4 separate regions of the Homo sapiens genome follow, and all the other regions are linked to region 4. Evidence: fine-mapped expression QTL. A gene starts in region 4. Each other region holds a variant in brackets. All regions are shown on one strand. Distances are from middle to middle.

Region 1 (5,148 bases), 490 kb before region 4:
AAAAATAATCTACACCTCTTGTCTCAGAGCTGGCCTTGTGACTTGCTTTGTCCTAGAGGAGGGGGCAGAAGTGATGCTGTGTCTGTTCTGAGGCCTCCAGAAACCTTACACACCGCTGACATTTCTCAGACTCTGGGGGTTGTCATATGAACAAGCCCAGACTGGCCTGGGGACAATGACACATGGACCTAGTAACCCCATTTGCCCCAGCAGACAGCAAGTCACCCAGCAGGCATGTGAGTGAGCCCATCCTGGGTTACTCAGCCATCTCTCCAGATGACTGGACTGTGAGCAACCAGCCAAGATCCACCGAGCCACCCAACTGACCCATATTCTCAGGATCAATAATGAGCATGTGTTGCCGAGTCACTACACCTTGGGACAGCAGGTGACCCAGTGATAACTTACACAGCTACCATCCTAACTCTTGCTCAACAGCTTCATCCAGACATAACTCAGACATCACAGCTCATCTATTTCACCAATTCATCAATTTTAGAACCATTTTCATCACCCAAGAAGGAAGCTCAGTGCCTATGAACAGCCACTCCCTGTTTCTCCCTTCCCAGTCCCTGAAAACCATGAATCTACTTTCTGTCTCTCTGGATTTGCATGTCTTTGGCGGTTCATATAAATGGTGTCATTCAATATGTGGGTTTTTTTTTTTTTTTTTTTGGCGACTAGCTTCTTTCACTTAGTGTAATGCTTTCAAATTTCTTCCACATTGCAGCATAGCCTCATAACTTTTTATGGGTAGTATCAGTTATTTATTTGCTTCCTTATTCTCTATCTTTCTCTAGTAAAATTGAAGATCCATGACTTCAGGAGTTTGCTTGTTTTATTAATTGCAGCTTCTACCTTGCCTAGAACTGAACTTTGCACATAGAATGCTTCTCGAATGAATGAATGGGTGGATGAATGAATGAATGAATAGGAAAATCAGTTTGTTTCCCTCCTCCTATTAAAAACAATGTCGAATGACCAAAGAACCTGAACAGGCACTGAGTTAAAAGCTTGTCTGGGCCAGGGCATGTCTCGTTGCCACAGGGGGCAGGCCAGGGACTCAAATCCAGCTCAGTCCAGCTCCACCAGCTCTCTGCACTTTCATGAAGCCACGGGGACAACTGCTTCTTTCCCCAGCTTCACATATTTTGATTCCAGGCTTTTGCAAAGCAATGTTCTTTTTGCTGTTGCATACCAACAACAAAAAAATTCTTCTTTTTGCTTCTGGCAAAATTGACAAAATTGACAATGGAAGACAAAGGAAGTTTTCTTACTTGGTAAAGAAACTGGTTTTGCTTTAGGTGGGAAAGGTTTCCCCAGCTCCATTCCCTCTCGATGTGTGTTAACAGGGACGGGGGAGGCCTCACTCCCTACTGACTACCCGTGCATTTACTTTAATTCCAGGGTCCTGGGTGGGAATGAATTACAGGGTTATTTAAGCTTGTTTTGCCATAAGCCTTGACAAAGTCTTTCTTTTCACAAAAATGTCCTTCATTTTCAAAACTCTGTTTGGCAGTGGAGGGTGCAGCCTGTAATCCTTTTATGCTGTGGTGGTGTCTGTCCTCCACGTGACTAGAAACGTCTTTATTGGCAACATTTTGTCTGGGTAATGGGGGAAGAGAGAGAGACCCTGCCTCAAATCACCTGGATGAGACCCTGGTTGCAAGGGGTAGTCCTATCCAAACTAACGCTGAGGCCCTGGGCTTCGTGACAGCCCGTGGCACGTTCTCAGTTGTTTCTAGCATGTCTAGCAAACCTTTGGAGGTCAGAGCCTGTCTACTCAGGGGTGTTCACTTGGAGAAGGGCAAACACGTTGGGGAGAGTAATAATTTGCAGACCTCTGGAGAACCATTCGGTGCTCCAGAGCTGACACATCCCCCACGCTGTGACTCGCCAAGCCATTCTGTAATGGATGCACGTGGTGCACACCTATAAGAAGCATTTTCAGGCCTAGGGCCAAAAGAATATATCACAACGAAGAAAAATGGTGGCAAGATACATGGGCCAATAGCCGGTAATTCACCAGCGTTGAAATCATAGCCAGCCATTAAGGACTCTGTGAAGGAAGGAGAAGGGAATTCGAATTGTAGTGTGGTCTCTTAGCTAAGTGTCTCCGGGGCTGGCCCAGAGGTGTGAATGCCTTAAACCTCCCAGTAGCTTTGCCTGGTGGGTGGGACTCCTGTGGCCTAGCTGAGGACACTGAGATGAGGAAGAATTGGTGGAATTTAAAAAAAATACCTATTTCCATGTTTTCTTTGCATACAATACCTGCTTGCTGTAAAAACACAAACCATTAAAAATATATATATATCAAGTAGAAGCAAAGCCATTCCTCACCGCAGCCCACCAAGAGACAGCCACTGAGAGTTGCTTGTCATCTTCCTGGCACATATACATCAGTGTGTGTATAAAATGCATTATTGTTTTAACTCAAATGGGATTATAATCTTTATATTGTTATTCATCTAACTTGAAAAAAATCTTGGTATAACTAAATTTTTTACACCTACACAAAAGTAGAGAGAAGAGTATGATGATGTTCACCCACTGAGCTTTAACTCTTGTCAGTGTTCTGCCGAGCTACTTTTATCTGCCATATCTCACTTAAAAAATTTTTCTGTTTTGGAAATTGTTAGATACAAAGGTAGAGAGAAGTCTATCATGAGCTCTCCTGTGTTCCTCACTTAAGAACACAGTTTCAGCAGTTTTTATCATAGAGCCAACCCTAAACCCTTCCTGCTAAACCTCCACCCTTGGATTTTTTAAAAGGCAAATACAGGACGTGGCACAGTGGCTCACTATAATCCCTGTAGTCCCAGTGTTCTGGGAGGCTGAGGCATTCGAGACCAGCCTGGGCAACATAGCAAGACCCCATCTTCACAAAAGATAAATAAATTAGCTGGCGTGGTGGCATGCACTTGCAGTC[C/G]CAGCTACTTGGGAGGCTAAGGTGGGAGAATTGCTTGATCCTGGGAGTTTGAGGCTGCAGTGAGCTGTGATCATGCCACTGTACTCCAGCCTGAGTGACAGAGTGAGTCCCTGTCTCAAAAAAGAAAAAAAAAATCAAATCCTGTTTCACCCATAACTTTCTTTCTTTTTTTTTTTTTTTTGGCAACAGCTTTATTGAGATATAATTTATATATCACACATTTTACCCATTTAAAGTATACAATTCAATGGTTTTAAGCATATTCACAAAGCTATACAGTCATCACAATCAACGAACATTTCATCACCCTAGAAGGAAACCCCTTGCCCATTACCCCTTCCCCATTTCCCCTCTCCCAGCCCCTGGCAAGCGCTAATCTCCTGGATTTGCATATTCTTTATATTTTATATGAATGGAATTGTAAACTACGCAGCCTTTTGTGTCTGGCATCCCATATCTCACGTCTTCGAGGCTCATCCACATTGTGGCATGTACCAGTGCTTCATTTGTTTTTATGGCTGAGTCATGTTCTGTTGTATGGATACCCCACTTTTTGCTGATCCATTCATCAGTTGAAGGGCACTTGCGTTGTTTTCACTCTTTGGCTATTGTCAGTAATGCTGCTGTGAACTTTCGTGTACAGGCTTTTATGTGGATATATATTTTCATTTCCGTTGGGTTTATACCTAGGAGTGAAACTGCTGGGCCATATGGAAAACTTTTGAGGAACCGCTGGGCTGTTTTCCACAGCAGCAACAAACTGCATGTTACGTTTCCATTAAGCTGTGCGTGAGCATCCCAATTTCTCCAGATTCTCACCAACACTTGCTGGGATCTTTTAATTAATTTATTAATTATAGAGATGGTCTTACCATCTTGCCCAGGCTGGTCTCAAACTCCTGGGCTCAAGCGATCCTCTTGCCTTGGCATCCAAAAGTGCTGGGATTACAGGTGAGAGCCACCCCGCTGATATGTCTTTTCAAATAAAGTCATATTAGTGGGTATAACTTTCTTTTAAATTTATCGACTTATCATGGAAGTATTAATGGATCAGTATATATCCATATATACTCACATAGTCACCAGCTGCTTCCTAATCCATTATATGAATGTAGCATTCTGTCTTTATCCCTTTGGCTAAGCATTTACATCAGTCATTTCCCATTTTTCAGCATCACAAACAAGGTGACAATGAATTCCTAGACATCTACAGTTTTCTCAACCAGTGTTCCCAAGAGAATTACACTCTCTTGCCCTGAGCCATCCATTGTATGTAAGGAATGAACTTTTCTCCCAGGGGTCTAGAAAGGTGTTAGTTATGTAACCACCCTCGAGAGAATTGATAAAATAGTCTCTCAAGCCACTTTCTATGTTCCGTGATTCACGTGAGCACCCCTGGTTGGGAAGACTACATGTGTTCAAATACCATTTCATATTGTTAGAGTAGAATTGCGAGCTGAGGTTTTCCTTTGACATTTGGGGCTATTTCTAAATTGCCCTCCAAACTGGTCACATCCATTCACAGGACCACAGTGTCCAGCATATGCCTGGAATATTATCATGTTTTACATTTTAATTTTTTATATTTATATAAGTGGAGATGGTGTCTCACTATGTTGCCCAGGCTGGTCTTGAACTCCTCGCCTCAAGACATCTTCCTGCTTCAGCCTCCTAATGTGCTGGGATTACAGGCATGAACCACCACGCCTGGCCATGTTTTAATCTTTGGTAACCCTAGAAGCCCCAAATTATTTGTCATAATTTTTTCCCTCCCATCCTTAGCGCAATTGAAAATCTTGTCAAATGTTTAACAGCCACTAGAATTTCTGTATTTAAGAATTTGTGTTAGAATTGAACATAATTACTCTTTGGGGAAACATGCATTTCCAATACCTGGGTGTACTTCAACATTTAATTCAAGACTTTCCTGACAACTGTTGGGGGCTAATTTTGTCCACCTGGTAAAATACGGTACCAAAATGTGTCAGTAGACAGCAGGCAGGTCTCAATGGACTTTATTTGACAGCTTTAAATTTATGTGACTCCTGATACATTTTTGACTTTAAGGGATTATATTTTAAAAAGTTTTGCTGATAATTGATCCTCTCAACTTTCTTTTTGTATTCACATAATTCCAATTCATGTTACTTACAACCCAAACTCTAGCACTCTTAAAATAACCAGAGAGTTGTGGAGCTTGATGGAAACATACACCCACT
Region 2 (5,148 bases), 31 kb before region 4:
CTCAGTGAAAAGGCATCACTGTAACTCAGGCAAACACACTCAAGAGTGCCCACCACAACTATGCTGTGAAAAACTTTCTTCACAGAAGAAAAAATGCAGGAAGCACAAGGACACACGGAAGAGACCCCTTTCTCTCTCCCATCATAATGCCTCCTTCAAATGAGAAAAACCATGAACTCTGCTTTTCAGGAAGGTCCCAGGCTCAAGGAGATAAGTTCATGAGGCTGGAACCTGAGCCAACACTCTGTAAGCTCTTCCACCTTCCTGTTGCCAGCAATAACCCCAGGAGGAAGAACAGAGGACTTCTCCCAGTCTTTCATCACAGCGGTTTCTCTTTTAAAGCCAGTAAAAAACTGCTTAGAGGACTTCAAAAGAAGCCCAATCCCAGGGAACAAAAAGTCACTGGAGCCACCCCGCAGACTTTGGCTTACGCTTATGGCTATCTCCTTAAAGCACCACCTGCTTTGATCATGGATTTGCCCAAACATGTTTACTCTTGCTCTTACCTGTCTTGAGTTTTGTATTTCTTATTGTGTCTAGTCTAGTATTGAACACTGGCCGACTGTGTCTAGACTACACTGACGGAATTATTTAAATGTGGGCATCCTGCCCCGGTTCCACTGGCACCTAACTCCTGGTCTCTTCCTGGTGTGGGATGTGGGATGTGCCTACCCAGCTCAGTGCTAACATCTTAGAGTTATGTGAACCCACCTGCAATCACGTGTAGGGGTGAGAGGTAGGGACCACATTTCATAGAGTGAAGACCTGGAGGAAAGGAAGAACCTGGGCTGCATGCAGCTTTAGAGACCCTCGGCAGCAGGATTTTCACAAACCTTTACCTTAAGGTGACCAAGCTATACACCCTTGCCTGATTCTCTCCAACCTTCTACCAAAGTTCTCTCTATACGAAAAACAATCTGGAATTGTTTTCAAATTTCAAATTTGATTTTCTCCCATTGCTTGAGAGGAAGACAACATCTATTCTCTCACATCTCTGTTTTACTCTGTGTGTTACTGTCTCGCTTGTCTCTGGTTCTCATCTGGGTCCTCTGAACTGGCACCATCAGCTCTGTCTTTCTAAGAGCATCTCAGTAGCCATGCCATCAATAGCTGGTGAATTCCGTGTACATTGCTTAACTCAAAATCTCATGGACCAGCTCATCTAATGAGACCAGCTCATCTTTTCAAAACCAGGCATCCAGGTATACATTAACCACCCAGGGATCAGGTGTTTCTTGTGGTTGACTCAAACATGGATTCAGTGTAGAAGATGGAAATTGCATGGTATGAAACATGGCTGCCTAACAATTAGGGCTCCAAGGCAGCACAGAGCCCCTGGGACAGTGAGTCTCATGACCAATATCTCTAGTACAATTTTGAGTTTTCAGAAAATTTATCACCTTCCAAGCTCCAGAGTGATGGTTAAAAGGTAAAGGTTGAACACAGGGCTCAGGGTCAGGATACATGGATTTTCATACTAATCCTACCGTAAGCCACCGTGAGGAAGTTATCACATTCATCCCACACACATGTGCTGTTGCTCTCAGCGTTAAATACCAACACTGTATGAAAAATCCAATACCACACTGGGGAAATGATAGTACATACAACCAAATAAAAGAGAAAAAACACCCCTGTTTTCATGGAACTTCAAGTTAAATGGGGACAACATGTATGAGCACATATCTGCAATCCAGGGAAATGCTGTGCAGGACAGGTACAAGGTGCTCTACCAGCGACCTTGGTCCACTCCCCACTGGGGAAAAACATTCCCCCAAAGAAGGCAGCTGAGGTCCTCAGCATGAGTAGATGTGGATCAAAGACAACTCCAGCCTCATCTGCAAAGTTCGTTTTCTTCCCCCAAAGAAATGTCTTCCTGTGAGGATACAGAGGTAGCAGGAGGGAGGCTCTGATGGCACAGTTTAGTGTCTTCAGAGCAGTGGCTGCAGGCAGTTACCCACAGGATGCAATGGCAAAGAATTATGCAGGCACCTGCCGATGCTGGTTTCCTGGCTGTGAGTCGTACGTACCGTAGTTACGTGAGATGCAATCACCAGGGAGAGCTGGGTGAAGGGGACTTGGGGCTCTCTGTACTATTTTATGCAACTTCCTGTGAGTCTCTATTTAAAAAAAAAAGTTAAAACAAATAAACAGACAAAAAAATCAACATAACAATTGCCCTGTAGGAAGAACATTTTGCGCTGTACCAGTTGCCCTTTCGGAAGGAACACATTCAACAAAACACAATGCACATGGCCCGGGGGAGGAGAGGGCGGGAGAA[C/T]CTGAGGCTGGAGAGCCTGGGGAGCTCCACCACAGAGGGTCATGGGTTAGTTTCTGGAACAATGGGAGCCGCACTGGGGTCTTAAGCAAGGGAATAACATGATTAGATGTGCATTCTCACAGGTGCTCTCTGGCAACATCCTGAACCTGTACTGGGCAGAAGGAGAGGAGATAAAATGGGATAAAAAGAGGAAAATGCTTTGTAACCTTTAAAGCTACATTCATAGCTAAAGGCGGGGTGAGATTACCCCACAGGCTGTCACACCAAACAAAAGCAAAACAGGGAAACTAACATGAAGGAGGGAATATTTTTGTAAATCATTTGATATTGAAGTCATCATCATGAGAAAACAAATATTTTGTTGGGTTTTCTTCCATTTGCTTTATGGCTAAGTACTATTTTAATTGTGAATTGTAGACAGGTTGAGCAGGGCCCCATAATTTATTTTCAGTGCTTGGGGTCTCTAAGGAGGTAAATGATTGGGTTTTAACTTTTTTTTGAAAAATTATAGAGTTTTTGCTTAAAATCATGTGGGTGTCAGAAGGAAAAAGTTCAGAAGAGATACCAAATCCTGGAAAAAGGAAAAGAACTGTGCCCACCAGGAGACACTGCTACACTCTCTGAAAAGATTTGGGGGTGAAGGGTCAGAATTAAAGTCAGACCTTCTCAGTTCAAGTCGAGTGCCTTCAAAGCCAGCTTTTGCAGGCCTTGGTTAAATGTTAACCCTAAGCAGGAGAGACTAAGTGGGAAAGATTCAACATCAGTTAAGGCAAGACAGTCACTATCCCAAGGAGGGCGAAGCTTATTAGAGACCCGGAGCCATGATAGCACCCGTAAATTACTTAGACGCATGACCAAGGAGTAATCCAATAATCCATTTATGACTTTAAATGAATCTGGCTGCACACTAAACCCCTTCTGAGTTTACAAACGTACAATATTCACAGCCACTGGCCTCCTATCGGCAGGAGGCCATCACGTCCAGCCCAACTTCTGCATGGTGTTCACAGCACAGAAAATTAACCAGAGCCAAGCAGTCAATACCATATTATCCCCTTCACTGCAGTTATTTATTCTATTTGTTGCTCTTCATTTCAAGCCAGCACCAACTGAAAAGATGGCCAGTCCAGCCCCTAAAAACAGACCCTTGCTGCTTTCTATTGAATCATGAAAGTTTAAAAAGGGGAAAACTTACATATGCACTTTGCAATTAAGAAAAAAAAAAGACCATTTGACGGAATTACAGCTGTATTTCCTACATCCATAAAAACCTGGGATTTATTTTGTCCAAAGATCACGGGGTGTGTTTTGGTGAAATATGCAGTTTGGGAAGTCTAGTCTAAATCTAGCAATTCCCAAAATGGTACAGAGATAAATATCTTTTATTTATATTATCATATATTTATTTTAATGCTGGTTAGAAGAAAACACTTATAGTATATCAAACCCTGATGTTTTAAAAATAGTTTTGCTAAATTAAAGAAATGCATCAATTTAAAGGAAAACATGAATTTCTTGCCTACTCTTGACTTTATTGCCCCATCTTCTTCCTCATGACACTCACAGTCATGAACCTGACGGAGGACAACTTCCATTCTCAGGTCCAAGTGTTGTTCTATCTATCCCTTTAAGGCGAATCCAGCTCCCTTTCTAGTGACTGGCTACAGAATGGCTCTGTGCTCTAAATATGACCAGAAAGACAGAGAGGAAAGACAGAGAGGAAATTAATGGCTGGGCTGGCCCTCCTTTGTTTTTGAGAGAAGCCTCTGTAAAGCTGGCCACTCCTTCTAGCCATAAACATATAAACTGTGTACCCTAAATACCAGTGTCATCTCTCCTGTGACCATGAGAACAACCAGTCTTGGGGTGAAGCCAGGATGTCATTAGAGAGACAGAAAGACTTTGATCATTAAGGGGAGCAATAAGCCACTGCATCAATTAACCTGGAAACCACCCTACTTCTGGAGTTGCTTTTTAAGATAATATGTTTCCTTACCATTTAAGGCAGACTGTATTCGTGTTGTTATTACTTGCAGCCCAAAGCATCCTAATTATAAAACGTGAACCTCCAATGATTGGGAAACTCAGGTCTCAATGCTGGATAGGCCCTGAGTCCTGTCTCCTGGGTTCAGGCATCAGGCCAAAAGCTTTGCATCTCAAATCAACAAATACTCTCAAAACAAGGGTGCTACTTCAGTAAATATAGGGGACAAAGAGAGACAAAGGGACTTGGACACTAGGAAGAAAGGGAGGCAAGGGGAGGTACAGAGAAAACCAATGTTCACTCATTCTTGCAAGATGCATTTCACTGCTTATTATGTGTTGAATATCCCATTACAACCTGAAGATATGGAAGGTAATAAGGAAAGGCCCATGTCTTCAAGAAATGACAGAGCAGAGAGAAAGACAGAGGAATGTACAACTAAATATGGTCTGAAAAGTACAATATTCTACAAGGATCAAGAAGGAAATAGGAGAAATTTTTAAGGTTTTTTTTTTTTAATTGGTGCTTAAAACTGAAATCTATGACTGGACTGGTCTCTGATCACTGAGCAGAATTTTATGTGGGGCTCTTATTTTTCTTCTTTCTTCAGGTTGTACCCCACCCTTTTTTCTTTCTTTTTTTTTTTTTTTTTGAAGGACTTAAAAGGCACATCAGTAACATTGGAGGGCAAGTCTAAGAAGTCGGGTAAGGAATGAAAGCATACCCAGGGGAGGGGGTGGAAGGTAGCAGGCTGTTACAGACAGGACGCCCTGGACATCACAGTTTCAAGGCGGTCATTATTTATTTTCCATGTGACCCTACACGTCTCAGTTTTCTCATCTGTAAAATGGGGATGGAACTGCCTTCCCCTCAAGTAGGTCTG
Region 3 (5,148 bases), 440 kb before region 4:
GAGCTGCCATAGAGGTGCCCATCTTGGCCTGTGCGCTCATGGTGCTGGCCCTTCTGCCGGCGGTCGCTGGCGTGGTTCTTGATCTCATCTTCCTCATAGTCCCCGCCGGGGCTGGAGTCAGCATCGTTCTGTCCGAACTTGACCCTGACGTTGCCGACGCCCACAGCCAGGATGCTCTTGCGTTTAGATTTCTGGCAGGCCTCGGCGATCGTCATGTCCACTCGGATCAGTGGGCCCTGGCCTTCCCCTTCGGCCACCACAACGGGCCACCTGGGAGAGCGGGGCTGGGGGACTGACACGACAGCCTCGTCCTGGGAGGTGGCTGCCAGGGAGAAGTCCTTGGTGTCGTAGATGTCCAGGGGCGTCACAGAGCCATCACTGAACTGCAGCCACGTGCTGAATACAGCCTCCTGCAGGGACACAGGCAGTTAGAAGACCACCTGGGGGATGCCTTTTCCCTTAGAAACCCCCTCCTAGGAGGACGCCCAATGAAACAGGGAGCAGGACCTCAAATCCAGACCCAGTAGCTCATGCATCTGGGGAGAAATCATACAGGTTTTCTATCAGGGGCAGAGAAACCACCTTAATTTAAACAAGAACAAATGGGGATGTGACTAACAGTGCCCTCATAATCCTTACCCAGAACAAACAAATGGCAAAACAAAAATCCCTAAGTGAGATGAGGCTCCGGGTGGCTTTATCCACACAGGTATTGCTTGAATCAGTCAGCCGGTGCATGTTCACAGACAATGACTGGCTTCTAGGGCAGGCCCTGGTCATTTTGTCACACACTCTGTGATTAGTGGCCTAAGTATGATGAATGGATACAGCTGTTGTCTGTATCCAGCCTGATGACAAAGGTTGATGGGCAGGAAACACTGTCAGAACCAATGACATCAGAAAGGAACCTCCCCTCTTCTCCCTGCACTGCCCCCAGTGAATTAAGCTTTGCCTGAGAAACAAGAAAACAAGAGCATTTTGCCCTTTAAGGTTGACCCTGTTGAGCCATTGCAGATGCTTTGCTTGGCTGTAGTTGGGCGGCAGTGATGTGTGGGACACAGTACATGGCATTGGCTGGTGGGCCCGGTTCAATTGTGCTGCCCTTGCTCTGCATGGGTAGCAGAGTGAAAGAGGAAGCAAAGGGCCAGTGTGAAGGGGCTGAGTTTATTTTGCAGACTCACTATACTTCTGTCAGTGACCCAACAGCTATGTAAAAACTATTTGCCATTGTGGGGACTGGTAAAAAAAAATTGACTTTATGTGCCTGGCTTATTTTACTCAAAGTAATGTCTTCCAGGATCATCCATGTTGCTGCAAATGGCAATATTTCATTCTTTTTATGGCTGAATAATATTCCAAAAAAAGGGGAAGCTACTGGCCTAGAAATGCCACTCACACCCATGCCTATGTGACTGGCAGATTCTCATGAGCACAAGGTTTCCTGCTGTCTCGCCTCCTCCCCAGGGCAATAATGACATCCTCTCCCCTTTGTGTGCCCACAGCAAACATAATCCCACAGAAGGCCTTATTCTTGACTTAGCCATGGGTACTTCTATTCTGCTTCCAAGAGTGGGAACTCCCATGAATAGAGGAGGGTGAAATGTGCAATCCTAATCATAAAACAGACAGTCCATATCCACTGGGCACTCGCTGTGGGTCAGGTGTTGTTCGCAGTTATTACAGAACGCATTTTCTCCTCTTCCACAAAGTAGGTTGGGTTATGCTTCCTGCCCAAAGAGAGGTTAAGAACTGTGCTCACATGCACGCATATGTTCATCGCAGCACTATTCACAATAGCAAAGACATGGAGTCACAATAGCGAAGACACAAAGTCAACCTAAATGGCACCTGATCCACAGCAAGTGCCCAGTGGATACAGGCTCTCCACTTTGTGCTTAGAATTGCATATTTCAGCCTCCTCCATTCATCTAGGAAAAACTCTCCAGACCATTAATGATAAACTGGATAAAGAAAATGTGGTACACACACACCGTGGAATACTATGCAGCCATAAAAAGAACAAGATCCCATCCTTTGCAGGGACCAGATGGAGCTAGAGGCCATTATTCTTAGCAAACTGACACAGAAACAGAAAACCCAACACTACATGTTCTCACTTCTAAGTGGGAGCTAAATGATGAGAACACATGGACAGATAGAGGGGAACAGCACACACTGGGGCCTATTGGAGGGTGGAGGGTGGGACCAGGGAGAGGATCAAGAATAATAACTAATGGGTACTAGGCTTAATACCTGGGTCATGAAATAATCTGTACAACCAACCCCCATGACACAAGTGTAGCTACATGACAAACCTGCACAGGTACCCCTGAAGTGAAAATAAAAGTTAAAAAAATAAAAAAAAGAAATATGTCCAGTCATATCGTTAGGAAGAGGCAGGATCAGGGCTGGAACTGCTGTGGCTTTAGAGCTGAGCTCTTGACCACTGTGCTAGGGACCCCCTAGAACAACCACTGCCAGAGCCCATTTTATCAGCCCCACAAAGACCATGATGACTCACCCTCTGCTGAAAAAGTCAAGTAGCTGCCTCCTTTCCTCCCTGCCTTTTTCACAGCAAACCAGGTCTGACCTCGTGGCCTTCCTGGACCTTTGTCCCCATCCATCCCGGACACTGTCATTGCAGCCCAGGGAGGTAGCAGCACCCACTCCATGGACGGGGCATGGGAAAATCCTACCTGCTGAGCCAGAGATACAGCAGCAAAGCTTGTGTGCGCTCTGAGCACTGGATGGAGATGTCGCCACTCAAAACCAAAAGCCCACACTTGGGTGGGATAACTACCTCTGTGGTATGCGAATTGGGAGAAAAGAAACTCACTTGAAGTTGGACCTGTGCAAATGCAAATACAACCTCCTTCAGAACAAAACAAAGCC[G/A]AGCAACCAGGGCTCAAGAGGTGCTCATGATACAAAGAAAGAAAAGTTACAACCTGTAGGTGGCAAGGCTGCACCGGGAGTGGTTGTGTTAAACATTTACACAGGAAGGTGAGCAGACTGATATGTGAGATCATAGAAGACTCCAAAGGCTATAACTTAAAGGAAACCAACAAAAAACAACAGTCTATGAAATAAAACAATAAATAATGTTATTTATGAAATAATAACATTTCATAATAATACATTTCATAATAAATAAATTTCATAATAAATGTTATTTATGAAATAACATAAAACGAACCAACAAAAATAGTCTATGAAATAAAATTAAAAAGAAATTAAAAATTTAATTAAAAAATTAAAGAGACATTAAAAGGAGTTGAAATTGTCTCAATAACAGCAAATGGGGGCCAGATGTGGTGGCTTATGCCTGTAATCCCAGCACTTTGGGAGGCCGAGGTGGGCGGATCACCTGAGGTCAGGAGTTCAAGACCAGCCTGGCCAACATGAGGAAACCCCATCTCTACAAAAAATACAAAAATTAGCAGAGCATGGTGGTGGGTGCCTGTAGTCCTAGCTACTCAGGAGGCTGAGGCAGGAGAATTGCTTGAACCTGGGAGGAAGAGGTTGCAGTGAGCCAAGATCACACCACTGCACTCCAGCTGGGGTGACAGAGCAAGACTCTGTCTCAAAAAAAAAAAAAAAAAAGAAGAAGAAGCGAATGGAAGCAGAGCAGGAAGGGGTGCAAAGAGCCACGTAGAATTTCTAGAAATGAAAAACACAGTCACTGAAATCAGTGACTCAATGGGTGGTTCGAACAGCAGATGAGACATGTTCAAGGAGAGAATTACTGCAGTGGGAGACAAAGCCACCCACGTTACCCCAAATAGAACCACAGGCATATCAAGAAATAAAACTGTGAAGGGCAGGTGAACAGACATAAAGGAGAGAATGAGAATGTCCAACGCTTGTTTGGTAGGAATTCCAGAAGGAAAAATTGGAGTAGCCTGGGAGCAGCCAGTGTTCACAGCAATGATGACTCTACATCCCGCAGGACCAAGGAAGAATGCTAGCAATTAAAAAAAGAATTCTGATGACATCGTTTGAGCATCTACATGTAGCTGTAGCTGAAGATCCAAATGCTTGGACATGAACTGATACATTCTGCTGTGTGTGAAGGCAGGTTGAGTTGGATTGGGTCATATCACTTGTGTTGGTAAGCCCTGGCCAACACCAGCTGGCTCTGAGGGGTGAGCCTGTGTAGGAAGTTTTAGGAGGGTGTGGAGTTCTCTTTGGGTGGCTGCCCATTCAGCTCCTGCTAGCTCAACTTTCAATGATCAACTTTGCTTTTTTTTTTTTTTAACTTATTTTTTGCCCAAGGTCACTCTCTGGCTTCTGGAATCCATGTGGTTGTGCCTACAGCAAGATGTGCCAAGGAGTTAATAAATGCTGTGGGCAGCCCTCAATGAAGGACTCATGGAAGTTGTTATATTTATCCCAGATCCCTTGCCCCTCAAGTGCAGTAACTCTTCTGGCCTTTCTAGACCGGCATACAGTCGCCCAGCAGACAGGAGCTCCGGCTGCCCTTGGCGGCGGCTGAGTTGGTAATACACTCTACTGGTTGCATTTCTCTTCCTTCCATCACCCCCGACTTCTCTACTGGTATTGTCTTCACCACCTGAATAAACTACTTGCACCTGAATCCTTGTCTCAGGCTCAGCTTCTGAGCAGACCAAAACTAAGACAGAAGAGATGGCTCAGCGATGTTGGTGCTCACCCTCGTCTCCTCTGTCCATATCAGCTGATGAATCACACAATCCAATAAGTCCTTCTAATGCCTCAACCTCATGCACAAATACCAAGTGATTTCTCCTTTCATTTTTCGATCCTACTTTCTTTAGAGCAAACAAGGCTTGGGAGAACATGCAGGCTACTACCCTCTATTTGTAGGTGTAAAAACCATTCAGATTTTCTATTTCAAAGTTGAAAATATCATGAACAAGGTGCCAGCCTTCTACACTCTAAGGGGTGAGATAAAAGACTGAACAGTGTGCAAGTTCATCGTGGCTGACATTTCCTCTTGAATAATTTTTCTTCACAAACTAGATGGGGAAAGAAGTTAACATAAAAAAGCCCCTGAACAGCAGACAATCGGAATTAAAGCCTCAGAACACCGTTGACTTGCCAAGATCCATCTCCATCAGCCCTGCTGCATGATTGAGACTAACTTCTACCATAAGCTCATTACAGAGAGGC
Region 4 (5,148 bases):
GTTGGGAAGGGAATTCTTCAATGGCCACTTTGCATCTAGGAAAACTGAATCCTAGAAACGCTGGAACCTAGAGCTAATTAACAGCAGAATTCAGGCACCAGATCGTGACTGTTGACTCTTTCAAATAAAATAGAAAAGTGCCCCCCTCTCCTACTCCTCCACCCCCGACTTGCCCCCCCTTTCCCTCGTCTCTCACCCCCTTTCCCCCCTCTCTCGCCCCACCCTCTCTTTCCCTCTTCTCTCACTCCTTCTTCCCCCCCCTCTCTCACCCCACCCTCCTCCCTACCTGGAGCTCTTGGAAGAAAGGAACACTTATATAAAACATAGCAAACTTGTCTGGTTGGTGTATCTGGGAAAGCGCAGCCTCAAGGAAAGTAGATTTTTCTGGATTTTCAGGCGGTGCAGAATGACTTTTGAAAAGCAAACGCTACTTTTAAACCTCCATTGACAACTTGTCTCTCTGAACGCATTTCTAGCTCAGCCTCAGAGCATTAGGCGGGAGAAGGGTGGCTTTGAGTGTTCTCTGCTCAGAGCCTGGGGCCGATACTGGACCCGCGGCGCCGCGCGAAGGCTCAGGGCACCCATGTGCGCACCTCCGTTTAACCAAATGAACCCGAGACCTTCGCCAGGGCGCGGGGAGCAGGAAAGCGACGCTCTCCTTTTTCTACGCCCTGGGCGCGCCCCGGGACTCGGGCAGCTGCTGCCCTGGCAGAGCCTAGGCCTTGCTCCCCGCCTGCCCCGCGGCTCCTGGGGCTGGAGACCGCCTCTCCCCGCCCTTCCCGCCGCCGCATCCGCGCGGCCACTCGGCCGCACACGCACATAATAAAAAAGGTCGGAAAAACCACACGGCTACCTTTCGTGAGCCCTGCGGGCGCCATACGTTAACTCCTTTAAATTCCTCCAACCCAAAGCAGGGCCGTCACTCCCATTGTAGAGAAGAGGACACTGAGGTGAAGGAGCCCCGGACAGGACCGCTGGTGAGGTAGTTCCCGTCGCGAGGGACGCACCCACCTCCCCATCCGCGCTCCCCCACCGCAAAGGACTCATTTGAGAGAACCCGCAGAGAGCCCCTGGTTTCTGCCAAGCTGGGGTCCCTGGTGAGCTGCGCGATGAGTGAGCGTTCCTCTAGGGCCCGCACAGAGACCCTAGCGGTTGCGGAAAGGGGATGCAAAGAACCGGGCCTTCCCTCCTGGAGCACCAGCCCCACAGTGCCGAAGCTGTGGATGGGGAGCTGTGGACAGGGAGCACACAGCCGGGAGGAAGGAGCGCACAGAGCGGAGCACCTCTCCTGGATGCCAGTTCCACAGGGTGACTGTGCTGGGGCTGGGGCAGGTCCGCACGGAACTCAGGGATGGGGAACAAACACCGTGTCCCTCAGCCACGCCCCCTCCTCATCCGCGGGGCAGCTCTGGGTCTGGGGGGTCCGGGGTGGGAGATTCGGGACTCGGGACCAGCCTAACTTGCCCGGATCCCGGCGCCCAGCTGGGAGCGCCCTTCTGGATTAGGGGCGGCTCGGCACCCGCAGAGGCGCTGTTGATGGGATCCGAGCCCCCGCCGAGGCCCCCGCCGCACCCCTCGCTTCGGCTGCCCTCACCCCGAGCTCCCCCGGAACCGGGAAGTTCGCATGCGTCGGCGCGCCAGGCACCCGCCCCGGCCTTACCTTTGCCCAGCAGCGCGCCCAGCAGCAGGCTCAGCGCCCCGCACAGCGGCGCCGCCGGCCCGGGGGCCGCACCCTCGGAGCGCATCCTGCGTCCCGGCCGCTCACGCAGCCCGCCGCCAGCCCGAAGCGCAGCGCCCGCCCGCGGCCCCCGCCGGCCGCCCCATGCCCGGGGCCACTCCCGCAGCCCGGTCGGCCGGGCCCGCTGCGTCTCTGCTGTCCGAGGCCCGCCCCTGCCGGGTCCACGCCGCCGCAGCTCCGGCTCTGGCTCTGGCGGCTCCGGCTCCGCCGCTGCTCGCGCTCCGGCCGGGACAACTTTTCTCCCGCAGCCTCCGCAGCCTCCGCAGCCGCCGGCCCGCCCCGCCCCCGGCCCCGCCCCCGCCCCCGCCCGGGCCCCGCCCCCGCCGAGCCCCGCGACCGCGGACAGATTGAGGGTGCGGTAGGAGAGAGTTCGCCTGCCCGCCGGGAGGGGCGGCAGATGGAGAACCCCCCCGCCCGGGCTAGGGAGGGTGTGCCCGGGAAAGAAGACCGGGAGAGGAGGGGGCGTCTCCCCAGGCGGCTGGGACGGCTCCTCCGGGGGTCCGCGCCTTTCCAGAGAAACTCAGCGTTCGCAGACTCCTGCCCGGGTGCCCAACGGACAGCGGCCCGTGGCCCGGAGGGTCCTGCCCAGGGACCCGACGCTCAAGGCGGAGCTGGACTCCTTCTCCCCACCCTCCCGTGGTCACTGCGGGACCTGGTGGTCGTCACGCCCCATTCCTCAACTTCAGGTGGCCGCTGCTTTAGCCTGGAGGGCTGGGGACATCTGGAATGCAAAGTCCCGCGCAGCTGCTGCGGGGAGAGCTCCTAACTGGATCACTGAGCGCGGAAAAGCAGCGCGCAGCGGAGCGTGAAGGCGGGGTGCGGGCTCAAGACAGATGCGGGTGTGCACCTGTGCGTGTGCGGAGGGGGCGAGGCACGAGATCACAGCGGTGTCTCTGGGAAGGGGACGAGAACGCAGAGGGGAAGAAAGGATCATTTTTCACTGCATGTCTGTGGGGCTTCCACTCCCCAATCATCTCCCCGCCGCCCATAGCATGTGTTTTATTATCTTTTCAGTGGGTGGAGAATAGCCCCTCTCTAGACTTGCTCCTGCAATAGGCAATTTCTCTGCAGACTCAGACAAGGAAGATCCGCCCTCCCCCCCCCCCCCCCGACTTCGTTCTCTCTATCTTTTCCCTCTGATTTCTCCAGGGCTGGCCTCCCTCATGGTGGTGATCCCAGGTGATCTCAGCGGCTTCCCTGTGCGGTTCCTGATGCTCATGCTCTGCTCTTTCTGCCACGCGTGGTCTGAGCAGTTTGAGGGCGGGACCCCGACTCCCCCCTTGTGACTGGGAATGAAGGGCCATGGGTTCGGAGGTCTCTGGACGTCCCCTCCTGTCCTGAGCTCCTCACCACGGGCTCAGCATCCCCTCTCACCGTGGGCTGGCTCGGTCCAACATCAAAAGGAAGCCTGAGGGGTCTTTTCTCACCATCAGTGCAGGAAAGAATTTCAAAAGAAAAAAAGAAGTCCTTGATTGAAAGAAAAGAAATGTAAACGAATGATCCCCAGCAACTGCAACCCCAAGTCTTATCTCCCAACTCAGCCCCTAAGGAATGAGCCAGGCATAAGGAGAAATTGGGGCGGGGTGGGGCGAAGGCTTTGCAGGGCACTGGCCAGAGTGGGAGGCTCTCTCCTGGGGTGGGGCCCGGAAGTCTGGGCCAGGCTGGGGGGAGATGTCTCCCTGGTTTTCTTGGCCGGCTCTACTCACATGATGTGAGGAGAAGGCAGCTTGAAAACTATCCAGGCCCCAAAGGGAACGGTAAAAGCTTGATTCTCATAGGCCTGGATAGCAGAGACTTGATTTTTAAAGTGGATTATGCTGATAATCGCCCAATTCTTCAGTACATTCAGCTAGTGTAGACCTGACCTTGGGGGCAGGGGGCAGTTGTAAAGTAGATTTGGGCTCCTAAAACGGAAGGTACGTTTTATTCTCAGTGCTTTGAGCCTGAACATCACCGGGGAATAATTTTTTTTTCATTTAAATGTTCCCAGCATGAGGGAGAAATACACATGTCCCATTGTTTGTAACTGAGGATGGGAATCTGCCTTATCCTCTCTCCTCCCTATTGGATAACAGGGACAAAAAATAAAAACCCAAAGAAGTGCCCTCCACTCCCCTGTTCTATGCAGCCTCATAATGTACCTTCTTTCCACATCATTTCTTTCCTTTTGGCACAGAACATTGCTGTCCCTACTGCAAAGACAAGTCAGGTCCTGGACTACATCTCTGTGATGCAAATAATCAAAACCAGGGGCTACCAAACAAGCCACAGCAAAATAAATACTAATTCAACATGGGGTTGGAGTGGGGAAAGGATTCTCAATCAGATAAGCTCACTGCACAGCACCCCAAAGGCAGCCACTGTCTTCAGGTGATCCTGAATCACAGATGCCCCTTGAGACTATGATGCCTCCGGGCATCCCCTGTGAGAGCCTTCAGGAGACCCAGCAAATGAAAGCTTCTCTGCAAACCTTCCTTTAGGACTCCATTTAATCTATTGCGTGTCCCTCTCAAGAGCAGTCAAACAAACATGCACACAAAACTGAACAAACAAATAAAACAGATGATATAGTCAATTTCTCTTTCATAGGTAAATCCACAAAAATTGAGGTTCATGGGCTAATAAAGTTTTCTGTATTTATTTTTTTTAAGTCATGTATCATTTAACCCCCAAATCATTAATTCCTTAACTTAGATTACTTCCAGATGGTTTTCTGAATTTCATAAGGAACATCAGAGGCTTCTAATCTCCTCAAAGGCTGTTGCAGAATTCCTTAAGGACTGTGGGCACATGGAAGCACTTAACATAATTTATGGGAGAGGAGAATGATTGGAAAGAGGAAACCTGCTGCTTCCACAGGGTTTCAGGGTTCCTAAGTCAATGAGGCAACTTCAGATTGTTTTGTTCATGCTTAAATGTTAAATTGTGAATATCGCATAAAATGAGGGGTGGAACTTGTGATTTTAGTTCAAAGGCTTCTTGCATTGTCTACCTGTAGACGGGACATATGGGTATATATTGCCGAGGACATGGAAAAGAAAGGCTATATGTTGGCCTCATGAAACAGCTATGGTCATCCCGCAAACTGAGTATCAAGTCCTGACTATGGTGCTTACTATTAGCGATTAAAAAATGAGGAAGAAGGAAAAAAGGGAGAAAAATGATAGAAAGGTCTATGCTTAGTTCTGTGTCCTGTCATTGTTCTTAAAACATATAGGCACTATCTGATTTAATCCTCTTCACACTCGTGGGGTGTATTATTATTATCCTTGGACATTTTATTCATTCATTCATTCATTTAACAAATAGGTGTCACTTGCTTACTATTTGTCAGGCCCAAATTTTGGGGTTTTGCCAGTGAACAAAATAGACGAGAGTCCTAAATTCATGGACCTTACATTCTAGTGGAG

Evidence for each region. PIP is the estimated chance that this variant, and not a neighbour inherited with it, causes the effect.
Region 1: its variant is fine-mapped to the expression of TMEM132C in whole blood (TOPMed, PIP 0.95).
Region 2: its variant is fine-mapped to the expression of TMEM132C in tibial nerve (GTEx, PIP above 0.99).
Region 3: its variant is fine-mapped to the expression of TMEM132C in whole blood (TOPMed, PIP above 0.99).

What each region holds. Positions count from the first base shown.
Region 1 is chr12:128,749,575-128,754,722 of GRCh38, reverse strand. No RefSeq gene overlaps it. Among named protein-coding and RNA genes, the nearest start is that of SLC15A4, 72 kb to the left of the region's middle. RefSeq lists an enhancer at 1-857. The variant C/G (reference allele first, on the strand shown) is at 2,930.
Region 2 is chr12:128,295,408-128,300,555 of GRCh38, reverse strand. The region is part of intron 1 of TMEM132C (transmembrane protein 132C); the gene reads right to left. Among named protein-coding and RNA genes, the nearest start is that of MIR3612, 3.9 kb to the right of the region's middle. The variant C/T (reference allele first, on the strand shown) is at 2,282.
Region 3 is chr12:128,700,352-128,705,499 of GRCh38, reverse strand. It overlaps TMEM132C (transmembrane protein 132C), which reads right to left. Exons shown (of 9, transcript NM_001136103.3): 9 at 1-410. Among named protein-coding and RNA genes, the nearest start is that of SLC15A4, 120 kb to the left of the region's middle. The variant G/A (reference allele first, on the strand shown) is at 2,893.
Region 4 is chr12:128,264,000-128,269,147 of GRCh38, reverse strand. TMEM132C (transmembrane protein 132C) reads right to left here and starts at 1,978. Exons shown (of 9, transcript NM_001136103.3): 1 at 1,661-1,978. The coding sequence starts at 1,745. It overlaps LOC107987176 (a long non-coding RNA gene), which reads left to right and starts at 2,116. Exons shown (of 2, transcript XR_001749176.1): 1 at 2,116-2,577. RefSeq lists enhancers at 937-1,775, 2,311-2,832.